Regions from separate parts of the Homo sapiens genome. Here region 1 is linked to region 2. Evidence: fine-mapped expression QTL. A gene starts in region 2. The other region holds a variant in brackets. All regions are shown on one strand. Distances are between the middles of the regions.

Region 1 (5,211 bases), 110 kb after region 2:
CTGCGCATTGCCCGAGGTGAGGGGCAAGGGGTGGGACAGGGAACGGGGACAAGCAGGGGCGGGATGAGACTCCTCATTGCCTGATGAGAACACACAGGAGTGGGGTGGGGAGGGGTGGGGGCAGGAGTTTGCAGGCATGGTGGGCTCCTTGCTGAACAGGGGTGAGAAGGAGCTGGGAGGCACACAGCCAACACACACGCATGCACCCTCTGTGTGCACACACCTCCCCCAACACACAGGCAACTTTGCATAGCACACATGGACACACACTCCCACTTCCTTATGACGCCATGACCCATGGGGTCCAGTCTCAGAGTGTGATGCAAGGAACCCAGTCCAACTGGGAAGATGTGAAACACCTCCAGTTCCTCGCTGGCATTTCTCAAACACAGTGACTGGGACGCACGGTCTTCAGAGATCCTTCTCCCTCCCCTCAAGGTAGTTCGTACACTTCTTTTAAAAGCCTCCTGCCTCAGGGCGAGCCCAGGTGCCTCTTGCTCTTCTGCCTGCCAGAAACTCAGCGAGTGATGCCAGAGTCCTCTTTATCGAGAGGGGAAGAGAAGAGATGTGGCCACTCACGCTGGTCCTTTGTGCCCGTGACAGTTCATGGCCCACCCATTCACACACTTCATAGACCTCAGTTTCCATGAGTATGCCCCGTCCTCGGGGGCTTTTCTACAGTGACACCCACGCCTTGTGTCCACATGTTTTTGTGCATGCCCCACTCACCCTGTGGCTGCACCCACATTCTTGTAATGTGGTATCTGAGAGCCAGACTCTGCTTGCACGTGCCTTCATGTTCTCTTCTCCCAAGTTTACACACGTGCACACATGCGTGCACACACACGTCCCCACCGGCCTGGGGCTGAGTGGGCAGGGCTGGGTCTCGCCCGCAGTGCTGAAGCTGTTGAAGATGGCCACAGGAATGCGGGCCCTGCTGGACACGGTGGTGCAAGCTTTGCCCCAGGTAAGAGCCACTCTTTCTGGCAGCCCTCCTAGGGGTCATTGGTGTCAGGCTGGGCCCTGGGGCATGAAGGCCCTGATTTCCCTTCTCCTCACATCTGCCAGAGCCAGGGCAGATGCTGTCTCTGGGGATGCATTTTGAGCCAGGGGCTGAGAGGCAGGAAGGGTCCCTTTATGCCTCTTTCTTCCAGTTTCACCATGTGGTTGCCAGTGCCACTCTGTGTCCAGCCCTGTGCACGCACTGAGGGTCCACATTGTGCCCTTGGTTGCCCCCAGGCTGGTGGAGGGAGATGGATACTTCAGGGAGATGTGGGGAGGGACCTCCAGCATGCTCCAGAGAGAGAGAAGAGTGCCAGACACTCCCTGGGGAGATCAGGGAAGGCAGCCTAGGAAAGGGGACCTTTGAGCTTGACTTCCAAGGGTGGCTTGGCAGAAGGAGGTGGCAGTGTGGATGGAGAAGTTCCGAGATGGCATTCCAGGAGGGGCAGCATGAGACCCTGACCCAGGTGGGGATCTGAGAAGTTAGGGAAGTTGCTCTACCCGCACCCTGCGGTTAGTGAAAGGGGAGATGTGATCAGGGCCACAGAGGGCATCTTTTTCATCCTCCCGAGAATTCTGCAATCCCAGTCCTTCCCTCCCCCGCTGTCTTGACTGCTTGAGGCTCCCCTTCCCCCTCCCCTCAGGGTGGCCTCTGCTCTCAGCTGAGCCTCAGGCACATTTATTCATTATGACTCAACGAGTCATCAGGAAGTTTAGGTGCCTTAAAATACAAGGCACAGATACTGCACATTAAAAATGAGGATACAAGATTAATGGCCCAGGGAAGGTGGAAGCAGAGCTAATTCTTTCGGGGACCGGGGCTAAGGACATGGGTGAGTTCTGTTCCTGAATTTGGTGTGAGCTTCCCAGCAGCCTTGGTATAAAGGGAAAGTGGCATGGTCTGGATGGAAAGCAAGGGCATTCATTCAGAGACGTGGTTTTTCCTAACACTAAACCCCTTCAGGGGACTTTGTCCCATGGGAGATGGGGGTGATGCTGGGCTGCAGGCTGTGCCGACAGGAAGTAGATTGGAGCCCCGGCTTGGGCCATAATGCTTGAGAGCAAAGCCTGGGCCCTGGGCATGCGACTTAGCTTTTCGTGCCTCAGTTTCCTTGCCTGTGAAATGAGGATGGTGGTGAAGCATCGCTCCCTCAAGCGCTTATTTCAAAGGGCGGCGGTGAGGTGTCAGATGGTTAAAGCTTATGAAGCACTTAAGAGGTCTGGTTCATGAGAAGTGCCATTTAAGAGGCTGCTAGGGGTGGGGATGGTGAGTGTGTGGCTCGGCCTCCCTGGCCTCCTTGCTCCCTCTCCCCTTCCCCATGCTCTGACCCCTGGGCGGTTCTATCATGACTCCCAAATCCAGTGTGGAGCTGGCATGGGGCACGGCACATGGAGATGTTCAGGACATCCCAGCCTCCAGCAGGAGACCCAAGGTAGTCATTACAAGTGCATTAGCACTTGAGAAGAAGCA[C/T]GTGCCAAGTGCCACTGGCCGTGAAATGGTGCTTACCCCTCAAAATCCATTTGCTGTTGCTCATGTTGTTGTATGGACATTGGCCATTTCCTCGATTCTACGTAAAGTGCTAGGAAAATGAAACTTCAGCCTCTTCCCACCAGTCTCTGCCCCAAGAAGAGGGAGGAGGCATCAGAGAAGGCTTCTCAGGGGAGGTGACCCATGGACTGGGCTTTGAGGGGTGGGGAGGAGGCATTTTACAGGCAAAGATAGAGGGTCCTCCCTGCAGAGGGAAAATAATATGCCAAGGCACTGTGGGGCTGTTTTCTGTGTGGCTGGAGTGTGTGGGATTGGAAGATCAGGCTGGGAGGGGGGTCCCTGGGGGCCAGGTCACAGCACACCTTCAGTGCTAGGGCAGCAGAATTGGGCTTTATCTTGCAGGCAGCAGGTGCCACAGGAGGGTTCTAGACAAGGAAGGCTGCAGCCGAGCTGCCTTTGAGAAGGTGGCTCTGCTGGCTGGGAGGAGAATGGATTGGAGGGAGAGGCTGGAGGCAGGGAAGCTGGTGAGGAGGCTGCTGCAACCCTGCCGGCTCTGAGATGCTGACAGCAGGGAGGGGACAGATAGAAAAGCTGACGGCAATCCTGGTTAAGAGATGCTGCCCCCGCCGGCCTGTGCAGGGCACAAAGCTGAATTCCTAGAGCCGCGACCACGCCAGATCCTTCTCAGCGGTCAGGGCCTTACAGTTGGCCTCACGGGTGCTCAGTAAGTGCTTGTTTTATTAATGAAGGGAACATCATTTAATTAGTCAGACACTAGCAGTGTAGAACGGCTGGCCAGGAAACCCTGCTCTGGAGTGGAGCGGAGAAACTCGAGGAGTGGTGATTAATGGGGTTTACTTTTCAGCAGTTAACGTGAACGTTTTCTGAGGGTTCTAAGGCCTTCTGAGGGTTCTAAGAGATATTTCATTTCTAGGGCAAGAATGTGTTTTAGCCTTATCTTATCCATAGCATGAGTTAAAGGTGGTCTCCAATGCATGGATAGATTTGAACTAGGTTTGGAATCTGGGACGCTTTCTCCCACAGGAGCTGTGGGATGGGGGTGGCTGGGTTTGCAGAGGCTTCTGGGGCCCACGGGCCTGCGTGATTCCTGCCTTCCCTCCTCTCTATGGCCAGGCCTCATGCTGGCCCAAGGAGGCAAATCTGACCTCATGCAGCTGTGTTCCTGCTCTTGAAGATTTCCCAGACCAGCAGATGACAGTGACAGGGATAAGTGCATTTCGGTGGTTTCGTAGAGGAGCTAGTGTTAGAGCTGAGACCTCCTGCCTTCTCCCTTCCCTTCGTTCATCCATCCATTCAACCTTGGTAGCCACTCAAGGCGTGTAGCATAGATTGTGTGCATGGACCCTGGGGCCAGCCTGCTGGGTTTGGACCCTTGTCCTACCAGTTACTAGCTGTGCGACTCTGGACAAGTGATGTCACCTCTCAGTCTGTCTCCTTCTTCTTCTGAAGAATGGGGATAAAAGATAGTTCGTGGATTATTGTGAGGAGGAAGTGAGCTCATGAACCTTAAGTGCTGGAAATGGGACAGCTTGTGGTAAAGGTGGCACAAGTGTTTTCTTGTTATTCTGAGCCCTGTGCTGGACCCAGCCTGCCCTCCAGGTCCTGTAGGGGTGGCAGACGTGGACACACAGCCTGGGGGAATGTTACAGCTGCTCTGACCCACAGGCTGCCCAACCCCACTGCCCCAGCCTCCACCCTTCCCAGGCCTGGTGCGCCCCCACCCGCTCCCCAGCCCCACCCGGCCTCACCTGTCCTCCCGCAGGTGGGCAACCTGGGCCTCCTCTTCATGCTGCTCTTCTTCATCTATGCTGCTCTCGGGGTGGAGCTCTTTGGGAAGCTGGGTGAGTGACTCCCAGAGCAGGCCCGTGGTGGGGGTGCAGCAGGGCTGCAGGAGGAACTGGGGGGGCGGGGGAGGCCTGAGACCCCTGAGCCCGTCACATCAGGGTCTTTGTATTGGGGAGATGCCTACAGCAGGGCCCTCAGCTGTCTGGTCTCCCAGGAAAACTGCCCTCCCTACCCCGGTGTTGGTGCCTGTCCTGAGCCAGCGCCACCCCAGCAAGTGGAGAGGCCAGGGCAGGGGAAAGAGCAACAGAGCGCTCGCTGAGCTCCGCCCTGCACCGGGATGGCTCCAGAAAGCAGGGTTCCCCGAGGGGCTGGCCCTCACCCCATTTCACCCTCTTTCTCAGAAACCCATTCTTCGGCGGGGAGCAGAGCCAGACTCACCCAAACCTGAGCCCCAGCTCATGTGCCATCTCCCCGAGCCTCAGTTTATCTGTGGGCTGGGCACAGTCTGCAGGCCCCTCCTAGGGTGTGATGAGGGTTCTGAGGCGAGGCGGGAGGCACCAGGTCAGGGTGAGCCCCGCAGGCACTCCGCCATCGGGCAGGGCTGACCTCCTCCCCGCTTCCAGTCTGCAACGACGAGAACCCGTGCGAGGGCATGAGCCGGCATGCCACCTTCGAGAACTTCGGCATGGCCTTCCTCACACTCTTCCAGGTCTCCACGGGTGACAACTGGAACGGGATCATGAAGGTACTCCTGGGCGGGCTGGGGTGGAGAAATCAGCCAGGTGCTGGGACAGTGAGGATGCTGGTCCTGCTGCTCAGGGCTCTGCCCACCCAGGGCCCCACCACACATGGGAGGGGCATGCAGGGCACGGAGGAGTGGAGGGGCCTGCCCAGGACCAGCACAGTGGGGAGAG
Region 2 (5,211 bases):
GGGTTGCAGGTGGGCCACTGCAGTTGCTGCGAGACCAGGTGCTTTACCTCGAGAATAAATCTCAATCCACCGCCTTCTCCCTGTCTTCACCAGCAGCCAAGGGCAGGCCAGCCCAGCTCCTCCCAGCCCTTCCTGCTCCACCCCTTCCCCTTCATCCACTCTCCCTTCAGCCCCTGGAGAGATGGCTTAGAAACAGACCAGAGCACACCACTCCCCTGCCTAAAACCCACCTGTGGCTTCTACTGAACTTGGGATAAAACCCACGCTCCTCTGTGTTCTCCCCCAGGGCCCTGCTGAACTCTTTGGTTTCATCCGCCTCCCTGCCCGAGGCTCGGCCTCGCTTGTGTTCCTTAAATGCACCGAGCGGGCCCCATTCTCCTGGCCTTCGCACGTGCTCTTCCTCCTGTGCTCTTCCAGCAGATCAGTCAGGGCTGCGGCCTCCCGCGTCTTGGTTTTCACTTAAACATCTCTTCCTTTAGAGAGGGCAAGATGATTGTCTCCACTCCCACCTTTCCCCTTGTTTATTTACTTCCCAGCACTTTTTATTCACTGAGTCAACAAATATCGATTGAGCACCTAGTATGCTCCAGGCACCATTCCAGGTGCTGGGGATACAGCAGTGAGGGGATACACCTCCCTTACAGGCTTCTCTTAGGCTGGGGAGACAGACACCAAATCATGGAGATATAAAGACATAAATTATGCACCGTGTTTGATGGTGATAAGAGTTGTGGAAAAGCAGAAAGAGAGAAATTAATTGATCGGTGTGTCTCTCTCCTCTGCGGAAGTGTGGGCTGAATGGGGGCTGGTGCTGAGTCTGGCTCGTGCCCCAGCATAGCCCGAAGCCCACACAGTGCCCACACATAGTAGGTGCTCATTGGGCAAATGAATGAATCAGTAGGGCCTGGGAGAACAGGGCCTGGGCGGAAGGAGAAGGTGCCCCAGTGAGAGGGAAGAGCGGGAGCAGGGCCTAGGACCTGAGGAGGTCCAATCTGGCCAGAGCAAATGGCCAGGGGAGGGAGTGGTGGGCTCCGAGGCTGGCACGGTGGTGGGCAGAGCTGGAACCACCCTAGGGAGGGTGCGTTTCAGCCCAGGAGGTTGACACGTGGCAGGCCAAGGTGCCTGGGAGCTTATGTAAGGCCCGTGGCTGTTTTTCTGGAATCAAGAGCAAAGCCCTGAGCTCAGGAGAAAACTCCGCCTCCCTGACCAGCCAGGGGAAGTGGCAGGAGGTGCCAACCCCTGCCCGTTGCCCCCGGGAGCCAGAGAAATGTCCAAATGCATCAGCTCCGGGTGGCTTGGTCGACAGCCCAGCAGCAGCTGGGTGGGCACCAGGGACGTGGACCCCATCTCTCAATCCCACGGCTCAGACTGGCCCTGTAGGGGTTCTAGGATCCCAGGGACCCCAGTGGACAAAGTTTTAGGGACTAGTACCCTTTGGGGTGAGGTGGTGAGGGGCAGGCCCTGGGAGTGGCTGTCCGTCCCATCTTGCCATTGACTGGTTGCGGAGGCTCTCGGCCAGCGAGGGCACCATCAGTTGTCATGAAGCCCGCCTGGGGGTCTGGTGCTGGGATTCTGGCCTCTCAACACCACCTAGTGCTTCACTTGGCTGGGTGCATAGCCTTGACAACCCGCTTTGTTCTCTTGGCCTCAGTTTCTTCACCTGCCAAATGGGCATAATAGTCCTCCTGAGGTTGTTGTGAGCATCAGACAAGGCCAGGGAGTAGAAGTGCTTTGAGTTGGAGTCGGAGCCAGCAAGATGATTTGCATCACCTAGAACAAAATGAAAATGTGGGACCTCTTGATAAGCAATTAAGAATTTCATGTTGGTGACAGAAGAATTCTAAAGCAAGTTCAGGGCCCTTCTGAGCACGGGGCCCTGTGCAGCTGCCTGAGCCACAGACCCAGGAAGCGGGCTCTGACCGGAATTCTTTTTTTTTTTTTTTTTTGGTGACAGAGTCTTGCTCTGTTGCCCAGGCTGGAATGCAGTGGTGTGATCTTGGCTCACTGCAACCTCCACCTCCCGGGTTCAAGTGATTCTCATGCCTCAGCTTCCCGAGTAGCTGAGATTACAGCGTGTGCCACCACACCCAGCTAATTTTTGTATTTTTAGTACAGATGAGGTCTCACTATGTTGGCCAGGTTGGCCTCAAACTCCTGACCTCAGGTGATCCACCCACCTTGGCCTCCCAAAGTGCTGGGATTACAGGTGTGAGTCACGTGCCTGGCCTTTGACTGGAATTCTATTTCTGCTGTTACTCTGCTACATGTCTGTCCTGTCCCTTCTCTGGGCCTCGGTTTCTTCATCTGTAAGGCAAGGAGGTTAGACTCTAAGATTCCTGGGTTCTCAGCCTTGTAAGGCAGTGGCTGGGAGGTCCCTGGGTCAAGGGCTCAGCTGTAGGTCTCAGCTCAGGGGTTACTTCCTCAGGGAAGCCAACTGTGATTCCCTCCTGGCTTGCCAGCGTTCCCCCAGTCTCTGATTCTGCAGCACCCCAACATTGCCTTTGTAACCTGCATTGTCCTGGCAATAATGTCTGTCTTTACAATCACCTCTTTTTTCTTGCAAGTTTTCTTTACCTTTGATGGTGCAATAAATACATAGCTCTAGTCTTGTAAAAAAGTTAAGATCCCTTCCTTCCTTCCTTCCTTCCTTCCTTCCTTCCTTCCTTTCTTCCCTCCCTCCCTCCCTCTCTCCCTCTCTCCCTCCCTTCCGTCTTTCTTTTCTGTCTATAATTACTTAAACATTTTTTCTCTTAAATAATGAAAGATTTCAAATACAGAAAATTGCCAATAGACAAAAAAAAAAGAGTTAATATCACAATTATATTCTAAGAAGGCTTTATTCTCCCCACTATCTTCGTTTGCCAAAACTGAGGCTCAGCCAGGGTGAGCAGACTTGCCCCATGATCACCCAGCTTGGAAGCAGATTCCAAGTTGGGTGCAGCTGGGCCCTCAGCTGTTTCGTAATCCTCATGCAAGAGTGAGGGTGAGGGGCCTGTGGGGCTCAGGTGGGGCTGTCAGAGCTGCATCCGTCCACTTATTGGTGGAGAGGCAGGTTGGGGAGCATGTACCAGGCCTGTCCCCACCACGTGCCACCCTCTCTGTCTTCCCCAGGGCTCCCAGCTCAGTGTGGACATGGCTGAGAGCGCCTCCCCGCCCTCCTCATCTGCAGCAGCCCCAGCCGCTGAGCCAGGAGTCACCACGGAGCAGCCCGGACCCCGGAGCCCCCCATCCTCCCCGCCAGGCCTGGAGGAGCCTCTGGATGGAGCTGATCCTCATGTCCCACACCCAGACCTGGCGCCTATTGCCTTCTTCTGCCTGCGACAGACCACCAGCCCCCGGAACTGGTGCATCAAGATGGTGTGCAACCCATATCCTCCGCAGCCTCGGCTGATCGGGGCCCTGCAGGGGCTGAAGGGTGGGGGGCTGGATTGAGTCCTGCTGCTCACACCTTGCTCCGGCTGGGAGACCTGAGGTCTGCGGTGAGGCCACTGGGCCTTGGTGGTGGTGAGCGAGCTCAGAGGGTGGGTCTGGGGAGACCTCAAATGGATGAGGACCTGGTGTTCTGCTGATGTGAAGGTTCTGGAAGTTGCTGGTGGCTGTGGGGTCAGTCCAGTGGCTGGCTGGCTCAGAAAGTCCTTGAGTGTGGGCCCCAGACCTGTGCTGGGCTGGGAATGCAGATCAGTCAGACTCTGGAGCCACCTGATGGGCCGTGACCATACAGAGGATGGGAGCCGTGATCAGGAACTGTGGGCGTGGGCAGCGGGGCAGCCGATCCCAACACACAGGGCAGGACTCATTCTCCTTACTGTGCCTCCGAGCAGCCTCTTCCCAGGCCTCCTGCCTCCACTTGCTGCCTCCAGTGGGCTCATGTTCCCCCTGCTTAAGACTGTCATGATTTGCTATGGTCCTGGAGGTGCAGAGCAAAGTCCTAATCCAACCCATCAGGGCCTGTGTGTTCCACCCAGCCTCACTTCCCACCACTTGGCTTCCCCCCTGTGCTCTTCTGAGCCTCAGGGTCCTCTCACTGGCTCTTCCCCCTGTCTGAAAAGCTTTTCCCTTCCCCCTGGACCTGGCCAAATCCTTTGCTACATCCTTAAAATCCCAGCTTAAGCATCACCTCCTCAGGGAAGCCCTCTGGGATTCCTCCTCTGCTTCATATCTAACTGTCACATCTAACTGTGGAATTCTGAATCTAACATTTGCCTCCCCTGGGGTACTGTCAGATGACTGGGATGGGGACCCTAGCACCTGGCACAGTGCTTGGCACATCGTGGGTGCTCTGGCAGTGTTTGCTGGGTGTACATGGGCAATGCCAGAGCTGACTCCTCAATAAGGAAGAGCGTTGGTTGGGTAGAGAGGGTAGTGGGAGGCAGGAGGAGGGCATGGCAGGAGCGAAGCCTGGAGAAGGGAGGAGTTGCAGGCAGTGTTGGAGCCCTGAGGGGCAGAGAGGAGTGAGGTGAGGCTGCAGGTGTGGCGGGAGCCCTGCAGGGCCTTGGAGGCTGCATGAGGGATGGGACTGTGCTCCAAGGGCAGGATTTGAAGCAGGGTCTGGAGAGATCTGTGCTCTGGAAGGACTGTGTGGCACTGGCTTGCAGGGTGAAGTGGGGGCTGGGGACCACTGAGGAGGAGGCTTGGGGACCCAAGCCATGGTGGCCTTGTGGTTTGAGGGTCCCACCAAAAAATGCCCATATGTGGCTCGAGGTTCTGGTGCTTGTGGCCACACAGGGCAGGGTGCGGGGAGCTGGTGGGTCAGGTGCAGGCCTGAGTCCTGCCCTGGAATCCAGGGATGCCAGATGCAGGCTGGGATGTTGAGACTGGCTGCAGGACTGCCAGGCTTCCCTTCTGTAGGGGGCTGAGGTGATCGTGGGCCCTGGATCCCCCTAACTTTTGGAAACCAGCGGGTCTCTGCTGGAGTGGGATGCAGAACTGGGTGTTCCTTGCTGGGTGGGGGCTAAGAGCCTCCCTGCTCCTTCTGGGGGACGGCTCACAGCGTCTCAGGCTTGGTGAGAGGGTCTGCTCGGTAATTAGTTCACCCAGCACTCACTGACATCTGCCCTGGGACACTGAGGACAAAGAGGCAGAGCTGGTGTCTGTCCCAGGGAGTGCCCGGGGAAGAGGGAAGCAGGGACCACCCATTTGGCTAGTTTTTTTTTTTAGATGGAGTCTCGCTCTGTCACCCAGGCTGGAGTGCAGTGGCGCGATCTCGGCTCA

Evidence for each region. PIP is the estimated chance that this variant, and not a neighbour inherited with it, causes the effect. A credible set is the group of variants that fine-mapping cannot tell apart.
Region 1: its variant is the best candidate, but not a certain one, in a credible set for the expression of CACNA1I in whole blood (TOPMed, PIP 0.67).

What each region holds. Positions count from the first base shown.
Region 1 is chr22:39,673,067-39,678,277 of GRCh38, forward strand. It overlaps CACNA1I (calcium voltage-gated channel subunit alpha1 I), which reads left to right. Exons shown (of 37, transcript NM_021096.4): 28 at 1-16; 29 at 897-967; 30 at 4,275-4,353; 31 at 4,921-5,042. Among named protein-coding and RNA genes, the nearest start is that of CACNA1I, 100 kb to the left of the region's middle. The variant C/T (reference allele first, on the strand shown) is at 2,474.
Region 2 is chr22:39,567,621-39,572,831 of GRCh38, forward strand. It overlaps CACNA1I (calcium voltage-gated channel subunit alpha1 I), which reads left to right and starts at 3,133. Exons shown (of 37, transcript NM_021096.4): 1 at 3,133-3,368. The coding sequence starts at 3,133.